3 linked regions of the Homo sapiens genome follow. The protein of the gene in region 1 purifies or fractionates together with the protein of each later gene. This does not show direct contact. Each region holds a gene or a part of one and is shown in the gene's direction. Other genes may lie near its edges.

Region 1 (3,652 bases):
ATTATTGTTATTATTTTTTTTTTTTAGACGGAGTACCACTTTGATGCCCAGGCTGCAGTGCAGTGTAGTGCAGTGGCGCCACCTCGGCTCACTGAAATCTCCACCTCCCGGGTTCAAGCAATTCTCATGCTGCGCAGCCTCCTGAGTAGCTGGGATTACAGGCATGTGCCACCATGCCACCAATCCAAAAAAGAAAATAATTTTTGTATTTTTAGTAGAGACAGGGTTTCACTATGTTGTCTAGGCTGATCTCGAACTCCTGACCTCAGGTGATCCTCCTGCCTCAGCCTCCCTAAGTGCTGGGATTACAGGCATGAGCCACCACGCCCTGCCCCTTTGTCCTTTTTTTTTTTTTTTTTTTTTTTGAGGCGGATTTTGCTCTTGTTGTCCCGGCTGGAGTGCACTGGTGCAATCTCAGCTTACCGCAACCTCCGCCTCCTGGGTTCAAGCAATTCTCCTGTCTCAGCCTCCTGAGTAGCTGGGATTACAGGCATGTGCCACCAAGCTTGGCTAATTTTGTATTTTTAGTAGAGACAGGGTTTCTCCATGTTGGTCAGGCTGGTCTCGAACTCCCGACCTCAGATGATCCACCTGCCTCGGCCTCCCAAAGTGCTGGGATTACAGGTGTGAGCCACCATGCCCAGCCGCCCATTTTTAAATTGTTTGTTTGTTTGCTTGTTTATTACTGAGTTGTAATAGTTCTTTATAAATTCCAGATACAAGTCCCTTATCAGATATATGATTTGCAAACATTTTTTCCCATTCTATGGGTTATCTCTTAACTTTCAAAAGTTTTATGGCTAAAACACAAAACTCTTAAACTTAGTTGAAGTCCAGTTTATTTCTTCATTGGTTGTTTGTGCCTTTCATTATATTGAAGAAAGCTTTGCCTAATCTAAGGTTATGAGAATTTAGTTTTTCTTTTAAAAAAAAGTTTTATTACTGTAGCTCTTGTAATAAACTATAATTTTTTGTTTTTTTGTTGTTTTGAGACAGGATCTCACTCTGTTACCCAAGCTGGAGTGCAGTGGTGCAATCTCGGCTCACTGCAACCTCCGCCCCACTGGCTTAAGCAATCCTTCCACCTCAGCTTCCCAAGTAGCTGGGACCACGGGTGCACACCACCATGCCCGGCTTTCTTTTTTTTTTTTTTTTTTTGTATTTTTAGTAGAGATGAGGTCTCGCCATGTTGCCCAGGCTAGACCTGAACTCCCGAGCTGAAGAGATCTGCCCACCTCAGCCTCCCAAAGTGCTAGGTTTATAGGCATGAGCCACCATGCCTAGCCATATAATTTATTTAGAGTTAATTTTTGTATATGCTGTGAGGAAAGCATACAACTTCATTCTTTTGTATTGGATATTCAGTGGTCCTAGCATTTAATGTTTGTTTTTATTATTATTATTATTATTTTTTGAGACAGAGTCTTGCTCTGTCACCCAGGCTGAGGTACAGCAGCACAATCACAGCTTACTGCAGCCTTGACCTCCCAGGCTCAAGCAACGCTCCCACCTCAGCCTCCCAAGTTGCTGGAACTACATATGTGCCCCACCACCCTGGTTAATAATATTTTTTTTAGAGATGAGATCTCACTATGTTGCCTAGGCTGGTCTGGAACTCCTGGGTTCAAGCGATCCTCCTACATCACCCTCCCAAAGTACTGGAATTACAAGCATGAGCCACCACGCCTGGCCCAACATTTGTCGTTAAGACTATTTTCCCTCCACAGAACTGTCTTGCCACCTTTGCTGAAAATCAGTTCACCATATATATAAGAGTGTATTTCTGGACTCTCAGTTCTATTCTGTTGATCTCTGTGTCTGTGTTTTGTTTGTTTGTTTGTTTGTTTTTTAAGAGGTGGAGTCTCGCTCTGTTGCCCAGGCTGGAGTGTAGTGGCGTGATCTCGGCTCACTGCAACCTCCGCCTCCCGGGTTCTAGCAATTCTCCTGCCTCAGCCTTCCGAGTAGCTGTGACTATAGTTGCATGCCGCCACACTCGGCTAATTTTTTGTATTTTTAGTAGAGACGGGGTTTCACCATGTTGCTTATGCTGGTCTCAAACTCCTGAGTTCAGGCAATCCACCCACCTTGGCCTCCCAAAGTGCTGGGATTACAGGCATGAGCCACTGTGCCCGGCCTGTGTCGGTCTTTATGCCAGTACCACATTGTATTGATTACTGTAGCTTTGTGATAATATATTTTGAGATAGAGATGTGTCAGTCCTGCAAGTTTTTTTTTTTTCAAGATTGTTTTTGCTATTCTGGGTTCCTTGAATTTTCATATGAATTTTAGGACCAGCTTGTCAGTTTCTCCAAAAAAAAAAAAAAAAAAAGCCAGCTGGAATTAAGAATCTATAGATCAATGTCAGAAGTGTTGTCATCTTAACAATATCAAGTCTTCCAATCCATGAACATGGGATGTCTTTCCATTTGTTTAGGGCTTCTTTAATTTCTTTCAACAATGTCATGATCTTCTTGGGGAACCTGAAGCCCAGTAGGTGCTCCAGTCCTGTGGGCTGACCAGCTTGACCAGCTAAGCCTCTTATCCTGGAGGAAGTCCCAGGACTGGCTTCTTCTTGGCTACCTTGTCCTCCAAATGGAGAGTATGAGGAGATCTTCATAACCTTCACTTCTCTGAGATTCTGTGGAATTATTTCTCTGCAGCTTCATGAGCTAGAGCAAATATCATGGTTTTTAAGAGCAGAAGTAACTTTTTAAGTTAAAAAGTCATGGAAGCAAATTTATTATTGCACTACTTAGGAGGTGTGCATGGGACTAATTGTAGAAAAGAAATATTTGTCATTTTTGAAAATGAGGTATTAAACACTATGATTAACTGAAATTTGATATTCAGAAAAGTATCACTTGTGTTTTTCCAGAACGCATAAAAATGATTCATAAAACACAGTTCCTACCAGGCAACCTTTGTCAGGGCCATTTTGCTCAAAATTTGGTGTTTTTTTGTTGTTGTTGTTGTTGTTTGTGTGTGTGTATACATGTGTATACAGTCATTTTTCAATCTGTTCTTCTAACCTTTACTTTTTTTTTTTTTTTTTTTGAGACGGAGTCTCGCTCTGTCACACAGCTTGGAATACAGTGGCCCGATCTTGGCTCACTGCAAGCTCTGCCTCCCAGGTTCACGCCATTCTCCTGCCTCAGCCTCCCGAGTAGCTGGGACTACAGGCGCCTGCCACCATGCCCGGCTAATTTTTTGTATTTTTAGTAGAGATGGCATTTCACCGTGTTAGCCAGGATGGTCTCAATCTCCTGACCCTGTGATCCACCCGCCTCAGCCTCCCAAAGTGCTGGGATTAGAGGCGTGAGCCACTGCGCCCGGCCAACCTTTACTTTTAAAGAAAAAGCACTAGGAAAGACTATATTAAAAAAAAAAAACAACCTGAAAAAGAGCAAAGTTGCTTATGCTGGGTTTTCTGTGATAAAATAGTTAATGTTTTGGGTCATATTAATGCAGCTAGCTACTTACCTTTAAAAAAAACTTTTTATTTTGGAATTATTTTAGCTTTATAGAAAAGTCCGAGAGGCAGTACAGAGTCCCTATAGATCTTCCCCACCCCCAGCTTCCCCTCATGTTAACATCTCATATAATAAATTATTGTTGGTACAAGACTACAGAACTGGGCACAGTGGCTCACACC
Region 2 (3,652 bases), on another chromosome or scaffold:
TTATTTTTAGTAGAGATGGGGTTTCACCATGTTGGCCACACTAGTCTTGAACTCCTGACCTCAGGTGATCCACCCATCTTGGCTTCTCTAAATGCTGGGATTATAGGCATGAGTCACTGCCCCCGCTACGATTGATATTTGAACATTGAATTAGCCTTGCACACCTGGGATAAATCCTGCCTGGTCGTGGTGTATAATTATTAATACATTATTGGATTCAATTTGCTGATTTTTTGTTTAAAAGTTTTGGCCAGGCATGGTGGCTCATGCCTGTAATCCCAGCACTTTGGGAGGCCAAGGCAGGAGGATCACTTGAGCCTAGGAGTTTGAGACTAGCCTAGGCAATGTGGCGAAACCCTGTCTGTTAAAAAAAAAAAAAAGAAAGAAAGAAAGAAAAAACAAAAAATACAGGCTGGGTGCGGTGGCTCATGCCTGTATTCCCAGCACTTTTGAAGGCCGAGGCGGGCGGATTGATTGAGCTCAGGAGTTCGAGACCAGCCTGGGCAACATGGCAAAACCCCGTCTGTCTCTACAAAAAATACAAAAATTAGCTGGGCCTGGTGGCATGTGCGTGTAGTCTCATCTACTAGTGGGAGGATCGCTTCAGCCTGGGAGGTTGAGGCTGCAGTGAGCTGTGATTGTGCCACTGCACTCCAGCCTGGGCAACAGAGCAAGACCCTGTCTCAAAAATGTGTATGTGTGTATATATATATATTTATTTTAGTGGTTGCCTTAGGGTTTGCAATATACATTCACAACTAATCAAAATCCACTTTCAAATAATGCTGTGCTGCTTCACAGGTAGTGCAAATACCTTGTAACCAAGTATTCCCAGTTCACTCCTCCCACTGCTTATAACATTGCTGTCATTTATTTCATTTATCCTTAGGCTACAGTCACCCAATACACAAATTTTATTTTGAACAAATTGTTAATGTGTTAGAGCAATTAAAATAAGAAAAATAAAAGATTAATTTTACCTACATTTATTTCTTCTCTGATGCTTTTCCCCTTCTTTACATAGATCAGAGTTTCTGACCAAATCATTTTCATTCTCTCTGAAGAAGTTCTTTTAACTTTTCTTGAAATGTTAAATCCCTGAGTTTTTGTTTTTCTGATAAAAATCTTTATTTCTCTTTCACTTTTGAAGGATAATTTCACTGGATACAGAATCAAATAGTTCCCTCCTCTCTCTTCTTGCTTGGATGGTTCCTGAAGAGAAATCCAGTGTCATTCTTGTTCTTGCCATTTTATAGGTAGGATGTTTTTTTCCTGTGGAAAAAATTCCCAGATTTCTGCAAAGAGAGAATCTTCCTTTCTAATTTTCTTTTTGTCTTTGATTTCTGCAGTTTGATGTGATTTGCCTCAGTGTAAATTACCTGCTTTTTACCGTTTCATGTTCTCTGACCTTATTGGATCTGTGGATGGGTGTCTGACATTAGTTTGGGGAACTTCTCAGCTCTCATTACTCCAAATAGTTATTGTGTTCTTTTCTTTCTCTTGATATCCTCATTGCACATATGTTACACTTTTTGTAACTGTCCCACAGTTCTTGCATATTCTGTTTTCTTTCTTTCGTTCTTTTTTCCCTTTGCTTTTCATGTTTGGAAGTTTCTGTTGACGTATTCTTAAGCTCAGAGAGTCTCTCCTTGGCTGTGTCCAGCCTCTTGAGCTTGTTGAAGGCAGTCCCCATTGCTGTTACAGGACTTTTGCTTTCTGGCATTTCCTACTGATTGTTGCTTAGGGTTTCCATCTCTGCTTATGCTGCCTATCTGTTCTTACATGATGTCTACTTTTTCCGTTAGAGCCATTACCATATTAATCGTAGTTGTTTTAAATTCCCAATCTGGTAGTTCCAAAATCTCCACTATGTCTGAGTCTGGTTCTGATATGAGGAACTTAGGCGTCAGGTTAATAGGCCTTAGTGTGAGGTACGTTTGGCTGGCTGGGAGTTGGGCTGTGTTTACTGTTTGCTGCCCTTGTGATGCTGGGGGATAAAAATCTCCTGTGTATCCTTGTTTTTGTCTTCCATTGTTTTTGGGTTTTCTTCAAGATTCCTTCTTAAATAGAGTCTGAGGCCTGCAGTTCTTATAGGTGTGCATCCCTGTTATTACACAGGGGTCCTGTTGATGTGGCTTTCAGGGGAGAGGAAGTGTTCTGTAGTCCTGGGATTAGGTCTCAGTGTTTTAGTGAACCTGTGTCCCTGGGCCGTGGCCTTCACATGTGCTTCTCAGTTTTGTTTTTTTCCTCCCCCTTAGGAGAGACATAAACGATAGAGGAGGCAGGAATTGGGTGTTTCCTTACCCCTAGGTGGTTAGGCTCTGGTAAAATAGTTTTCCTTGAGGAAAGCCCTTTGTTAAGGATAACAGAATGCTCTGGTCATGCCTTTTTCTTTCTTTCTTTCTTTTTTTTTTTTTTTTTTTGAGATGACCTCTGAGCCCTTTATATGTTGGTTGGGAAACTGGAGTGCAGTGGCACCATCATGACTCACTGCAGCCTCAACCTCCTGGGCTCAAATGATCCTCCCATCTCAGCCTCCTGAGTAGCTGGCACCACAGGCACACTGCCGTGCCCAACTATTTTGTTGTTGTTGTTGCTGTTGTTGTTCTTGTTGTAGAGATAGGGTCTCACCATGTTTCCCAGGCTGGTCTCAAACTCCTGGCCTCAAGCAAACCTGCCGCCTTGGCCATCCAAAGTCCTGGGATTATGGGCATGAGCCACCACACCTGGCCTGGTTATACTTTTAAATGATGTATTCTTCCCTCCTCCTACCAGAGTATGAGGAGATGTTTCTCCAGTCTCACCCTGAGAGCCTGGTGGGGCTCATGGAGGTAAAACTCAGACTGGTATGGGGACCTCCCCAGTGACTATTCCCCTGGAGTTTTTGTCTCCTACTGGTCCATGCTCAGTCTCTGCCATTTGTCAGTTCCCCTTTCCTCTCTGCTGGTGCTGGCTCTAGGGTTTCTGCCCCGCAATGAGCTGTGATTCTTAGCATTGCATATCTGTCTCTCCATCTTTGGGGTTATTGTTTTTTCATGTGACCTCAATTATCTGATGGATCTGAGAACAGTCATTGATTTTAAGTTTGCCAGCTTTCTTGTTGTGAGGATGGGAGTGATGACTTCTGAGCCTTTACAAGCTGGACAGGAAATTGGAAAGTCCCATTTCATTCTTTTTTAATAGAGAACTTAACTGTGTGAGGTAATGAACAACTGAGAAATGTTGAGTGCAAGAAGCCTGTTCTTGGGAAGAATCAGCAACCCATTTTAAAAAACAGAAACATTGAAAATGTTATGGTGGTTGGTAAGATGCAGGCAGGAGCACAGCAGGTACAGTGCTGCTGCCCACAGCCTTCTACACCTGAGGCCCTGCATTATGGAGGTTTGCTAAGCCAAGTGCCTCATGGCCATGTGTGACCAAAAAAACCTTTTTACTAAATGTTTTGTGCTGCTATAACAGATACCACAGACTGGGAAATTTATAATGAATAGATATTTCTAGGCTGTGCATGGTGCCTCACACCTGTAATCCCAGCACTTTGGGAAGCTGCGGTGAGCAGATTGCTTAAGTCCAAGAGTTCGAGACCAGCCTGGGCTACATGGCAAAACCCTGTCTCTACAAAAATTAGCCAGGCGTGGTGACACACACCTGT
Region 3 (3,652 bases), on another chromosome or scaffold:
GTCTAAAAACAAAGTACCTATCTTAATTAAAAATTATTGCTAAAGAATGCTAGCAATCACCTGAACCTTCAGCGAGTCATCATCTTTTTGCTGGTGGAGCCTTGATGTTGCCTTGATGTCGATGGCTGCTAACTGATCAGGATGGTGGTTGCTGAAGGTTCGGGTGGCTGTAGCAGTGTATTACAGTAAGACAGCAATAGAATTTGCTGCATTGATTGACTCTTTCATGAAAGATTTCTCTGTATGTAGCATGTGATGCTGTTTAATAGCATTTTACCCACAGTAGACCTTCTTTCAAAATTGGAATCAGTTGTCTTAAACCCTGCAACTGCTTTATCAATTAAGCTTATGTAATATTTCAAATCTATCATAACAATATTCACAGCATCTTCACCATGGGCAGATTCTGTCTCAAGAAACCACTTTCTTTGCTCATCCATAAGAAGCAACTCTTCATCCATTTGGGTTTTATCGTGAGATTGCAGTAATTCAGTCATCTTCAGGCTCCACTTTTCTCATTCTCTTGCCATTCTACCACATTTGCGTTACTTCCTCCACTAAAGCATTGAACCCCTCCAAGTCGTCCATGAGGGGTGGAATCAGCTTCTTCCAAACTCCTATTAATGTTGATATTCTGCCCTCCTCTCATGAATCACAGATTTTTTTTGTTTGTTTTTTGTTTTTTTGTTTTTTTGAGACGGAGTCCAGCTCTGTTGCCCCGTCTGGAGTGCAGTGGCACAATCTCGGCTCACTGCAACCCCCACCTCCTGGGTTCAAGTAATTCTGCTGCCTCAGCGTCCCGAGTAGCTGGGATTACAGGTGCCCGCCACCGTGCCCAGCTAATGTTTATATTTTTAGTAGAGACAGGGTTTACCATATTGGCCGGGCTGGTCTCAAACTCCTGACCTCAGATGATCTGCCTGCCTCAGCCTCCCAAAGTGCTGGGATTACAGGTGTGAGCCACCACAGCGGGCCAAATCACAGATGTTCTTAATGACATCTAGAATGGTGAATTCTTTCCAGAAGGTTTTCAATTTACTTTGCCCAGATCCATCAGAGGAATGGCAGAGGAAGCCTATGGCAGCTATAGCCTTATGAAATGTATTTTTAAATAAGACTTTAAAGTCAAAGTTCCACCTTGATCCATGGGCTGCAGAATGGTTGTTGTGTTAGCAGCCATGAAAACAACTTTAATCTTGTACATCTCCATCAGAGCTCTTGCGTGACCTAGGTGCATTATCAATGAGCGGTGATATTTTGAAAGGAATCTTTTTTTTTTTTTTTTTTGAGCAGTAAGTCTCAACGCTGGGCTTAAAATATTCCGTAAGCCATGTTATAGACAGATGTGCTCTCATTCAGGCTTGGTTCTTCCATTTCGAGAGTACAGGCAGAGTAGACTTACCATCATTCTTAAGAACCCTAGGGTTTCCAAACGGTAAATGAACATTGGCCCAACTGAAAGTCACCAGGCACGTTAGACCTTAGTGAGAGTCGGCCTGTCCTGATGCTTTGAATCCAGGCATTACTTCTCCTTTTTAGCAGTAGAAGTCCTGGATAGCATCTTCTTTCAACACAGGGCTATTTTATCTACACTAAAAATCTGTTGTCTAGTGTACCCATCTTTATTAATGATTTTAGCTAGATTTTCTGGAGAACTTAATGCAGCTTCTCCATCAGCACTTGCTGCTTCACCTTGCACTTTTATGTTATGGAGACGCCTTCTTTCCCTAAACCTCATGAACCAACTTCTTCCAGTTTCCACCTCTTCCTCTGCAGCTTTCTTGCCTCTGTCAGCCTTCATAGAATTGAAGAGAGTTAGGGCCTTGCTCTGGGTTAGGCTTTGGCTTAAGGATCTGTCACTGTGGCTAGTTTGATCTTCTGTCCAGGCCACTAAAACTTTCTTCATATCAGCAATACGGTTGTTTCACTTTCTTACCATTCATCTGTTTATAGAGTGGCACTTTTAATTTCCTTCAAGAACTTTTCCTTTGCATCCACAGCCTGGCTAAGTGTTTGATTTGAGAGGCTGGATTTTGGCCTGTTTTGGCTTTGGGCCTGCCTTCCTCCCTAAGCTTAATCATTTCTAGCTTTTGATTTAAAGTGAGAGACATGCAATTCTTCTTTTACTTGGACACTTAAAGGCCATTGTAGGGTTCTCAATTGGCCTAATTTCAATATTGTTGTGTCACAGAGAATAGGGAGAACTGAGAAGGAGAGAGATGGGGGAATGGCCAGTTCATGGAGCAGTCAAAACACACACATTTATTAATTGAGTTTACCATCTTATAAGAGTGTTGTTCCTGGCACCCCAAAACAATTACAAAAGTAACATCAAACGTCACTGAGCACAGATCACCGTAACAGATGTAGTAATCATGAAATCATTTGAAATATTTGAGAATTACCAAAATGTGACACAGAGACATGACGTGAGCACATGCTGCTGGGAAGATGCTGACACACCTGCCAGATGCAGGATTGCCGTGAACCTTCAGTCTAAAATAATCACAATATCTGCAAAGCGCAATAAAACAAGGTATGCCTATATCCTTAATAGCTGGTAGTCCAGACTGCCCTCTGGAATCTTCTGTTAAACACACAACATACTGAAAGGTAGCATTTTTTATTACTTTCATTCAGGAAAGGGGTGGGGCAAAGCATCTCGAGTAAGTAAAAATGGTTTCATTGAACTTTAAACAGCAGTATTTAATCCTGAGCATTCTGGCACATTGGCGTCTGTTTATTTAACAGGTGTACATGGACACCCTCTCAGTGTGCCAGGCCGTGTTGCGTGTGGCAGACTGTGCGAGGGGAACTAACTGTCCTGTTCTGAAATGGAACAACGAGGGGCTTCATGGATTTGGAGAGAAGTACAGTTTAGGGTCCAAGGACCTTTTGCTTTTAAATATTACACTCTTCTTCAAATAATCTGAATTTAAACCGCTTAGGGCTCTCTTTTAAACCACCATTGGGGTCAAGTAAGACATATTCTGGGGAACCAGACTCATTTACCTAACCATGTCCCACTTCTGTATATGTGTGTGTATGTGTGTGTGTTTGCATATATATATACACACACATATACACACACGTATGTATATGTTTGTATTTCAGGTGAAAGTCACATAAAATTGGCCATTTTAAAGTGTATGTTTCAGTGGCATTTAGTACATTCACAGTGTTGTACGGTCACCACCTCTATCTGGTTCCAGAACATTTTTATCACCCCAAAAGGAAAATCCTCTGCCCATTACATAGGTACTCCCCATTGCCAGTCTGTTTCTGTCTCAATGGATTTACCTCTTCTGGATATTTCATATGCATAGAATCATACAATATGTAACCTTTCGTGTTTGGCTTCCCACTTGCTTTTAAGAAAACTAGCTCACCCCAGAAGAGGAACTTAGCAGAAACGAGCTCCACAATGGGGTCTCGAGTAGGAGTCCCCTGCAGCCTGTTGCTCTGATTGTGGCTTCCCCTGTTGTTTCTCCTTTGGTTTGCTGGTCAGTCTCTTCTCCTTTTTCTCTTACCCAGTGAATTGAGCTTTGCTTATTTTGACTTTGTCCATCTGTTATTGATAAGAGCCTCCACACTTGAAATTGATGATTGGATTAGTTTGTGTATGGTCATCCCTTGATATGTGTGGGAGATT

Evidence for each region.
Region 2: the proteins of FLYWCH2 (region 1) and CCM2 purify together in Homo sapiens (co-immunoprecipitation; one large-scale study listed by IntAct). This does not show direct contact.
Region 3: the proteins of FLYWCH2 (region 1) and RTF2 fractionate together in Homo sapiens (co-fractionation; one large-scale study listed by BioGRID). This does not show direct contact.

What each region holds. Positions count from the first base shown.
Region 1 is NC_000016.10:2,886,175-2,889,826, forward strand, and holds part of FLYWCH2 (FLYWCH family member 2), read left to right. Parts: intron 1-3,652.
Region 2 is NC_000007.14:45,059,053-45,062,704, forward strand, and holds part of CCM2 (cerebral cavernous malformations 2 protein), read left to right. Parts: intron 1-3,652. UniProt on the Homo sapiens protein: Component of the CCM signaling pathway which is a crucial regulator of heart and vessel formation and integrity. May act through the stabilization of endothelial cell junctions. May function as a scaffold protein for MAP2K3-MAP3K3 signaling.
Region 3 is NC_000020.11:56,478,550-56,482,201, forward strand, and holds part of RTF2 (replication termination factor 2), read left to right. Parts: intron 1-3,652. UniProt on the Homo sapiens protein: Replication termination factor which is a component of the elongating replisome. Required for ATR pathway signaling upon DNA damage and has a positive activity during DNA replication.